2 separate regions of the Homo sapiens genome follow, and region 2 is linked to region 1. The links come from fine-mapping of genetic effects on gene expression. A gene starts in region 1. The other region holds a variant in brackets. All regions are shown on one strand. Distances are from middle to middle.

Region 1 (5,495 bases):
TCACTTAAAATGATAAGAATATACTTCATGATGAAGAGTAAAATCACTAGGAAGGGACAGGAGTGGTGACTCATGCCTGTAATCCCAGCACTTTGGGAGGCCAAGGTGAGCAGATGGCTTGAGCCCAGGAGTTTGAGACCAGGCTGGGCAACATGGTGAGACCCCATTTCTACAAAAAATACAAAAGTTAGGCAGGCATGGTAGTGCATGGCTATAGCCCCAGCTACTGGGGAGGCTGAGGTGGGAGGCTCACCTGAGCTCAGGAGGTCAAGGCTGCAGAGAGCACATGCCACTGTGCTCCAGCCTGGGTGACAGAGTAAGACCCTGTCTCAAAATAAAAAAAGAAAAATCACTAGGAAGGTGGGATAATGGGAGAATCCTAGTTGAAATATAGCTATACCCATCTTAATAATGTACCATGTATACACAGATGTGTGTATTTAGGCACCTGAACTTGTGTATATAATAATATTAAACTGAGAGCTTGCCTGCTTCAATCTTTGCTGACATTTGCTAAGGGATAGAATTCAAGGTGATATAAGAATTCTCTGTCACCTGGAGCTAGAGAAATCTGTACAACTCCTGCAATTAACTCTCAGGAAAGAGTAGGCCATATTTCTATTAATAGGGTCCACCCCTCAGAATCAAATCACAGTGGAATCACTTTTAAAGAGGTCAGAATTTGTCCATAGAGGAGAATCATTCAGCTTTGCTTTTTGACTCATTCCACGTGACTCAAGGGGCCAGCCTCTCATTCTAATGCCTCTAGGGACACTTGTTTGCTAAGACACATTATCTGCACAGAAAAGGGCCTCCTAAGTCAAGGCTGGGGAACATCGAGCCATTGGGAATGCCATGCTTGGTCTAGTGACTCCCAAGGGACTCCAGCTGAGGGGGCTGTCGCCCTCTGTTACTCCTTCTATGAGCCTTTCATGGACTCCTTCACTCTCCTCATTTCTACTTATTTTTCCCTGGGAGTCGGCTTCAGCTCTCTTTTTAAATTCTGAATTATCTTGCCTGTTTCCAGGGTTCCAACTACCTATGGAATTGTGGCTTCCTAATTTATATCTCTAGCCCAGGCTTTCCTCAAATTCCAGACCCTCTTATCCACAGAATACTCCAGATTTCTACCTTAAAGTTGTCACCAGCACCACCTGTTCACCAAATCCCCAAACTTACTCTTCTCCCTGTGTTATTTTTATCTCAGTGGCACCAAGAGTCTGCCAAGCTTGAAAGCTGGAAGTCACCACTGATTCCTCCCTCACTCCATCCTCACTCTGTTCACTAAATCCTGTTGAATTCACCCAGATGGTCATTCAGTGAGTACATTTCAAGCACCTGCTATGTGCCAGGCATTGTGTTAGGTATCTACTGCGAAGCAAAAATAGACAAGGTCCTTGCCCTCGTGGCTTACAGTCCAGCTGGGGAAACAATATCATGAAGGAAATGTATCCTAAGTTAAGAGAGTGTTTAGTCTGGGAGACAGAGAAGGCTTCCCCAAGAAAGGGGGAGATCTAAAGGGTGCCTTAAGAATTAAATGGATGAAAGTCATAGGTGGGGAGTTCAATTTCTAAGCAGGCAGAACGTCCTGTGTATGAGCTCTGAATGAGGTGGAAGGAATGAGGAATGTCCTTCAAGGGACTAAGGAACGGCCTCTGGAAAGTGAGTGGTCTTCCAGGAAGGCCATCGTGGCTGAGGGGTAATGAATTGCAATAATACTAGGATGGGAGAGGAGAGTGGGGAAGTGGGAGAGGCCCCATTGCTCAGCACCTGGTAAAGATTTTGGTCCTTTTTTTGAGAGGACAGAGAAGACTTTTAAGGTGAGTGGGATGATGGGTGGGGAAGGTTGAGGAATGACAGATTTCTATATGAAAGTCGCTGTGGCTACAATGTGGAAAATGGATTAGATGGGGCCTGGGCAGAGGTGGGGGAAGGCTTTCCCATTGGCTTCCTCCTTGCCATCCCCATAGCCATGATCCCCAGTCCAGATTTTTGTTGTCTCTTCTTGTCTTGCAGCAGAAAACCCCACTACTATTGTCCCTAGCAACTTACCTTCAGTGTGGCTGTCTCACTTCTGACAAAAGAAAAGAAAATCAACAATCCTTCGTTGGGCTCAAAATAAAGTTCAGAGTCCTTAGTCTGGCTACAGGTCCCTTCAAACCTGGCCCTTGTCTCCCTCACCAGTGTCACATCCAACCACTTGTCATCAATACCTGAGCTCTAGTTCATACAAGGGAGACTCGAGAGCTGGACCGCAGTTTGAGGTGAAAGGACCAGAGGAGTAGAGGCACCGAGAGCCAAATCTGAGGCCGAATCAGAGGTCTAGGATGTTAACTGAACAGAAAGTAAAGGAAACTGGCCGAAGCGGGGGTTTCAGGCAGTTGGCTTCCAGCATCTTCAGGCGGTTGGCTACAAGAACATCAAAGACCAACATTTGGGAAGCACTCAGGGACAAGACATCCGGAGGCTTGGATGCAAGACCAAAGGTGTAGTTGATGGGAGGTAGTTCCCCAGGACAGGCCCCCGAGGACTGACAGATGGGAGCTTAAGGACAGGACCCCCAACCAGTAGAGAAATGAGGTTCCCGAACAGCCATGACCACAGCTGGCGCAGAATGGGCAGGACTCAGAGACTTGTAACTCAGAAGGTCAAGGACAATGGCTGACTTGAGGATGACTTGGTAGGAGGAGAATGATGAGAACATTCTTTATATTCTACCTGTCTGGAGACAGAATGAATTCTAGAACAAAAGGAGCAAGGCCAAGCTTCCAATCAAGGCTAGAGCTAGAAGGTCATGGAGAAAGGCGTGGGCAGCTCCTGCCTTCGCCTGCACCAAGTTCAACAAACACACAGTCATAGCCATGGCTGGTCCCCAGAGCACACACAAGGCAAGGATGTTAGTGGCCAGCCCCATGCACCCCGATGAGCTATGCTCGCTTGGGAGACCCATCCTCCTTGAAGGTGAGTGAAATCTCAACACGAGTATGGTTCTGAGAGTAGCTCTGTAACTCTGAGGATGGTCTCTGGAGACCATGACTGTGTACAGTTCACATGGTAACCAGAAGACTATGACATACTTCAGAAGGTGGTGAGGTCATAGAACACAAGCTTTAAAGTAAGTGAATCATGTGTGCCTCATTTATTTTTAAAAGCAACTTCTGAGAAGGGCTTAGAACAAATTTTTTCCCGGAGTGCCATTTCCCAAAGGTACTCACAGAACAATCAGGTGTGACCATAATGGCTGCACTGAGTTGTCTCTTGGACAGTGTCAGAAGGGACATAAAGAAGGTGGACAGAGAACTAAGGCAACTGAGATGCATCGACGAATTTAGCACACGGTGCCTGTGCGACTTGTATATGCACCCCTATTGCTGCTGTGACTTGCACCCATATCCGTACTGCTTGTGCTATTCCAAGCGATCACGCTCTTGCGGCCTGTGTGATCTCTACCCATGTTGCCTGTGTGATTATAAGCTTTACTGTCTGCGACCATCTCTCAGAAGTTTGGAGAGGAAAGCCATCAGAGCCATAGAAGATGAGAAGCGAGAGCTTGCCAAGTAAAATAACTTATTTTTAAATTTTTATAGTCGGTATATTAGCCTTATAAGTTGGAATAAGGAAAAATATGTGACAATCAATAGTTGAACAAAGATTAAAAGGGTTCAGGATAATGACCCTGGTGACTTAGGAAAGATTTAAGGAAAGAAGAGTAAATGAGTCCATGATGGGAATTGTAGGGTTCTCAAAAGACAATGTAATGATGTCGATTGGCAAGGTCGTCGGTGGTTTATAGCAAGAATGCCAGTATGATAAATAATGCGGCTTTAATGAAGGGAAGAAACAGGGGGTGTCATTAAAAAGCCATTGGAAGCAGCAAACTAAACATTTTTCCTGGTTATGAGTAAAGTGATTTGAGTATATTTGGACTTACAGAAATGACTACAGGAGAAGTAATAATAATAGATCAAATCCTTAATGTGTGCCAGAGGCTTTACAAGCAGGAGAGCAAATTGAACAGTAGAGGCATTGCCTTGGTTTTGTGGGAATATCATTCTCCTATCCCCCCACTCCAGGCAAAGACTTACCTTGTATCTGGAATTAGGTCTATCATGTTGGCCTCCCCTCTAACTCTAGCAAAGGTCTTGCAAATAAACTATGGCACTGAGTTGTAGCTTTCAGGATAGACTTGAAAGGCTTTTTAATTGAATTGGGTAATTAAAAAGAGTCAGTTTTTTAAAAAAATTTTTGTTTTAGATTATATTTTCTTTTTGCCTGGAGAAAACTTTCCTTTTCTAACTTTTTACATATGCCATTTAGTCTGTTACTGTTGATGAAAAAGATGGTTGAAAGTGCTGTCCCTGGTTAAATAAATAATACATTCATGCACTGGAATAATAAGTAAATATAGAAAGGATTGATGAAGCATCTTACATATTGATGTATTAAGTCAAACAAGCAAAGTGCAGAAAAACTGATAGACAGATGACAGATAGATAGATAGATAGATAGATAGATAGATAGATAGATGATAGATAGATAGAGTCTCTTGACAACAGTGACAGTGATGTTTCTTTGGAAAAAGCAATAGGAGGCCGGGTGCATTGGCTCATGCCAGTAATCCCAGCACTTTGGGAGGCGGAGGCGGGCAGATCACCTGAGCTCAAGAGTTCGAGACCAGCCTGGCTAACATGGTGAAACCCCATCTCTACTAAATACAAAAAAAAAAAAAAAAAAAAATTAGCCAAGCGTAGTGGCACGTGCCTGTAATCCCAGCTACTCGTGAGACTGAGGCAGGAGAATCACTTGAACCCAGGAGGCAGAGGTTGCAGTGAGCCAAGATTGCACCACTACACTCCAGACCGGGTGACAAAGTGAGACTGTCTCAAAAAAAAAAAAAAAAAAAGGATAATTATTGTCTAGGTCACCAGCCACCAATGGTCAGGAATGAACCTCCCTCATAGCCTGGGAGCTTTCACCTGTAAATTCATCTATACTCTTTGAACCAATGTTTGTTTTTATTTCTTAGGGCATCAAGTCACATAAATTGCTCACACTGTGAGGCAGGGACTCTTTTTAAAATATTTGGTCCAAGTTAAGGTTTCCTTGTGAGCAGATCAGTATCCACTCTCCTCCTACTTTTGGATACTTGAATACCCTTGTCCAGGTCTTTCCAGCCTCTGTCTTCCTGGCTTCTCTCCTATCCCCAGACTCTACCAATTAAAATCCCTCTCTGTCCTGTGCTGTCTACTCTCTTGATGCCTCTTTCAGAAGCCTTGTTTCTTGGCATGCAGTAGAAACAGCTTCAAGCTTAATTCTCGGCAGTGTAGTTTAGGCAAGAGGTAATGTTTTCTCTGGTTTGTGATGCTCTTCCTGACAGCGTCTGGGTCTTTGCCTATTTTTTCTCTGCCTGCAGGCAATATGTGAAGCTGGTGATGTCTTTACATTAATTTCTGGATCTCGGAAATGATAACTCCAAGTCCATTGTAGAAATGACC
Region 2 (5,234 bases), 25 kb before region 1:
AGCTTTATGTGCATTAAACTCTTTCTCTATTGCAATTCCCCTGTCTTGATCCATTGGCTATCTGGGCAGCAGGCAAAATGAACCAATCATGCAGTTACATCCTCTCTCCTCACTCCCCTTTTTATCTTCTTCTCTTCTTTTGACCTCAAATTCAAGTTCTTCCCATTGGATTGCAACACCTTGGGACAATTTAGCACTGCTCAGCCCCTGCTCCTAAACCCAGCTCCAGCCTGCCTCTGCACCACTCATAGTGGCTTGGCTAAAGAGCCTGATTCTGTTCCTAGACAAAGGCCATCTCTCCCCCATGGGTAGCGTGGTAGTTCTTAAATATGTCTACAGATTCTTTGATACTTCTTTCAAAGGGTGACACCTATGTCTCCTCCCCTTTAGTATGGGCTATGCTTACTGACTCAATTCCAGTCAATAAAGGGCCACAGAAGTGACATGTGACTTTCCAGATGAGGGCAACAAAGACACTGTGACTTCCTCCTTAGATCACCCACTCTGGGGCAAGTCAGCTGCCCTCACAAGGACTCAGAGAAGCTTCTCTCTCTCTTCCCATCCTCCATTACTAATTCTTCCCAATAAACACCACCACACATAACTCTGGGTCAATGTGCAAAGTGTGGAAGGGGTAGAGGGGGAGGTGCTGGGTCACAGCAGAGAAGTAGAGAGATGAGACTAAGGCAATTGAGTGCAGCAGAGCAGTGCATGGGCTCCAAGCCACAGCAACCTGTGTTGGAGCCCCAGTTCTGGCTCAGATAGGCTTGGTATAAGGCTTGGCCCAATGTAAGTATTCTTGTGATGATAGCAATTATGGTGATTATTATTGGTTGAGCACACACTGTGTGTCAAGCTCTATGCTAGCTACATTACACACATTACCATATCATTTTCTTCCTTTCTTTTTCTTTTTTTCTTTTTGAGAAGTAGTCTCACTCTGTTGCCAAGGCTGGAGTGCAGTGGTGCAGTCTTGGCTCACTGCAACCTCTGCCTCCCAGGTTCAAGCTATTCTCCTGCCTCGGCCTCCTGAGTAGCTGGGATTACATTCGCACACCACCACGCCCAGCTAATTTTTGTACTTTAGAGACCGGGTTTCACCATGTTGGCCAGGCTGGTCTCAAACTCCTGACCTCAGGTGATCCGCCTGCCTTGGCCTCCCAAAGTATTGGGATGACAGGCGTGATCCACCACATCGGCCTGCTTTCTTTCTTTCTTTTAGATGGAGTCTCGCTCTGTCGCCCAGGTTGGAGTGCAGTGGCGCGATCTCGGCTCAATGCAAGCTCCGCCTCCCGGGTTCATGCCATTCTCCTGCCTCAGTCTCCTGAGTAGCTGGGACTACAGGTGCCCACCACCACACCCGGCTAATTTTTTTGTATATTTAGTAGAGACGGGGTTTCACCGTTTTAGCCAGGATGGTCTCGATCTCCTGACCTCGTGATCCACCCGCCTCGGCCTCCCAAAGAGCTGGGATTACAGGCATGAGCCACCGCACCCAGCGTCTGTTTTTTTTTTTTAGAGACAGGGTCTCACTCTATCACTTAGGCTGGAGTGCAGTGGTACAATCATAGCTCACTGCAGCCTTGATCTCTCAGGCTCAAGTGATCCTCCTGACAGCCTCCCAAGTAGCTGGGACTATGGGCATGCACTACCATGCACAGCTAATTAAAAAAAAAACTTTTGTAGAGCTGGGGTCTCACTATGTTACCCAGGCTGGTCTCAAACTCCTGCCCTCAAGCGGTCCTTCTACCTTGGCCTCCCAAAGCACTGGGATTACAGGTATTGGCCACCATGCCCAGCCTCGTGTTTCATGTTAATACTCACAGAGCAACTCAACAAGATTGATATGTTGTAGTGATAGAATAGTGTTTCCCCAAAATATATGTCCAAATTGTGACTCTAGATACCTGTGAATGTGACCTTATTTGAAAATAGGGTCTTTGCAGATAGAACAGAGTTATTGATTTGGGGATGAAATTATCGTGGATTTACAGTAAATCTAATGACTGGTGTCCTTACAAGACAGAGGAAAAAAAGATTTGAAACAGGAGAGACACAGGAAAGAAGGCCATGTGAGGATAGAAGCAGAAGGTGAAATCTTTGTTGCCACAAGTCAGAGAAGGCCAGAGCTGGAAGGATCCTCCCCTTCCAGGATTCTCTTTGGAGGGAGAATCAAAGGCCAAGATGTCAGCTTGGCCTTGCTGACATCTCAATTCTGTGCTTCTGGCCTCTAAAACTATAAAAGAATACATTTCTATTGTTTTAAGCCACCCAGTTTGAGGTCATTTGTTACAGCATCCCAGGAAACAAATACATACACATATATATATATTTTTTTAGATGGAGTCTCACTCTATCGCCCAGACTCGAGTGCACTGGTGCAATCTCAGCTCACCTCCTGGGTTCAAGTGATTCTCCTGCTGCAGCCTGGGACTACAGGCGTGCGCTACCATACCTGGCTAATTTTTGTATTTTTAGTAGAGATAGGGTTTCGCCATGTCGGTCAGGTTGGTCTCGAACTCCTGAACTCAAGTGATCG[GCC/G]CCCCCCCCTTGGCCTCCCCAGGTGTTGGGATTACAGATGTGAGCCACTGCATCTGGCCTGAATACACATGTTTTTGTCCCCACTTTACAGATGAGGAAATGAAGGCTCAGAAAGACAAACAAATTTGCTGAGTCTGTTTTTATGCAAAGAGTCAATTTATGCTAGATACACATAAAGCTACAGAGTGCTCATAAGATAAATGATCAGGAACCCAAAACAGGAAAATTAGGACAAATGTGTAGCTCTAGGTCCCTACTGAAAAAAGGAAAATAGGTTCACATCATTTCAATGGGCAAATTCACACAAATACCAGAACTCATTTAATTAGGTCAGGAGAAACCCTCTTGGAAGGAGAAAACTAGCAAAGTAGAAGGTTGGGTAACATGTAAAACAACTCAGCAAAACTGTCTATGGAGAAGACCAGTCCATACCAGACAGAGCCAGCCCCAAAGGCGGATGACCTAGACTCTTGGGAGACTTTGAGCAGATTAAATTAATAGAGCAATTAGGGGCAGGAAGCAGACTAAGCGTCTTAAAATCTGGGAATCCAAGAGGAAATTTTCAGAACAATTTAGCTTGTAGGAAGGAATCGAGTCATGCACTTTTAATTTCTCTCTGTTTGGTTTCTTTTCAATATGCTGAAATGGCAAGTCTGAAGAGCAATAAATAAACACAGGTTTCTTCTGAGACACAAACAGCAGGGAATCATTAATTTTTAAGGTCCACCCATTTCCCAAGGAGCCTTGCCTGGTGTTTGAGCTTTAATCAACTCACGGGAACAAGTTTCTCCTAACCTACACCATTATCATCCCAGGAGCCTTCTCTTGTCTTTTGGGGGGAAAGAAAATTGGCATTTTCCATAGTTGCAAAAATAACAAATGCTCAATATACAAACTTTGGAAAATTTGAAAGGGCACAAAGTAAAGAAAAGGAAAAAAGTAAGCACCATAATCCCATCTCCTACTTTTGTTTTCTTTGAGACAGGGTCTCATTCTGTCACACAGGCTGAAGTGCAACAGTGCAATCACAGCTCACTGCAGACTGGACCTCCCAGGCTCAAACGATCCTCCCATCTCAGCCTCCTGAGTAGCTGGGACTACAGGTGCACACCACCATGCGCGGCTAACTTTTTTTGTATTTTTTGTAGAGACGGGGTTTCACCATGTTGCCCAGGCTGGTGTTGAACTCCTGGACTCAAGTGATCCACCCCCCTCAGCCTCCCAAAGTGCTGGGATTACAGGTGTGAGAGCCACCTCGCCCAGCCCCATCTCCTACATTTTGAAATATATTCTTCTGCTAGTTTAGATATAAGGATAAACATGTAATTCAAAACCAAATTGCCTTTAGCTGCTCCTGCATGTTTATGGGAGGGATGGTGAAACCGCCTTTGTAAAATCATGACTGAGACAGTGAAAGAGATCTAACTTAACTGACTCCATCTTGCCTCTAACCCCCAAGCTGTCCTTGTTCATTCCTGGGCATAGGCTGAACTAACTTTGGGAGAGACTTAGTTTTTCTAATTTAAACAAAGACGGTAACAGCCCTTTCCCAAAGCAGACCGCCTTCTTGCCTGGGGAGTAGATTGCCTTTGTAGGACTAACATTACCCACAAGATTAAAAATTATGGTTTAGGAGTCATGCAGCTGGAAGTCTACAAGATTCTGACCCTCCTTAAACTGGTCCTAAGATCAGTGCTGGAGATATTTTGCAGACCCTGCACTTGATAGATCAGCTGGCACCACCCAGATCAATAAACTGGTTCATCGGATCTTGTGCCCCTGGACCCCCCGGAACTGATTCAGCACAAGACAACAGTTTCGACTTCCTATGATTTCATCCCTGACCAATCAGCACTCCTGGCTCACTGGCTTCCCCCCACTCACCAAGTTATCCTTAAAAACTCGACTCCCCGAATGCTTGGCGAGACTGATTTGAGTAATAAAAAAAACTCCGGTCTCCTGCACAGCCGGCTCTGCGTAAATTACTCTTTCTCTATTGCAATTCCCCTGTCTTGATGAATCGGCTCAGTCTAGGCAGCAGGCAAGGTGAACCCCTTGGGCAGTTACGGTGGCTGAGGACATAATTCGTATTTGTGGAGAAAAACATAACATCGAATATTATTTACTATGTGCCAAACACTAAGCACTTCATACATATTAACTCTAAGAAACTTTTGTCTACTGCCTGCCAAGTTCAAAGATATTCTTCTATATTTAACTCATTTAATTCTCAGCAACCCTACTAAATATTAGTCCCACCCCATTCTGTAGATAAATAAACTAAGGCAGGGGAAGAACTGTGCCCCAAACCGCACAGCTGGTAAGTGGCGGAACCAGGACTTCCTCCAGAATCTGCTCCAGAAGCCTGCGCTGTGCTGTGCACTCCGTGCGCTGTGTGCTCCGTGCGCTGTGTGGTCCGTGCTCGCTGTGTGCTGTGCACGCGGTGCGCTCTGTGCTGTGTTGCATGCTCTGTGCTGTGTGCGCTGTGCTGTGTGCGCTGTGCTGTGTGCTCTGTGCTGTGCTCCGTGCGCTGTGTGCTGCGCGTGTGTGCTCTGTGCTGTGCTCCGTGCGCTGTGTGCTTTGTTGTGCGCTGTGTTCTACGTGCTCTGTGCTGTGCGCTGTGCTGTGTGCTGAGCTGTGCTGGCATCGTTCTCACTCCTCCTGGTGGCTGTGGGAGGATGGACTGGTAAGGC

The links. PIP is the estimated chance that this variant, and not a neighbour inherited with it, causes the effect.
Region 2: its variant is the best candidate, but not a certain one, in a credible set for the expression of ODF1 in prefrontal cortex (BrainSeq, PIP 0.88).

What each region holds. Positions count from the first base shown.
Region 1 is chr8:102,548,491-102,553,985 of GRCh38, forward strand. It overlaps ODF1 (outer dense fiber of sperm tails 1), which reads left to right and starts at 3,099. Exons shown (of 2, transcript NM_024410.4): 1 at 3,099-3,557. The coding sequence starts at 3,238. It overlaps LOC124901998 (a long non-coding RNA gene), which reads left to right. Exons shown (of 3, transcript XR_007061039.1): 2 at 1,208-1,319; 3 at 2,017-2,106. It overlaps LOC105375684 (a long non-coding RNA gene), which reads right to left and starts at 2,138. Exons shown (of 2, transcript XR_928478.3): 1 at 2,053-2,138.
Region 2 is chr8:102,523,629-102,528,862 of GRCh38, forward strand. LINC03047 (long intergenic non-protein coding RNA 3047) reads left to right here and starts at 5,193. Exons shown (of 2, transcript XR_001745731.2): 1 at 5,193-5,227. RefSeq lists an enhancer at 4,970-5,189. The variant GCC/G (reference allele first, on the strand shown) is at 2,540.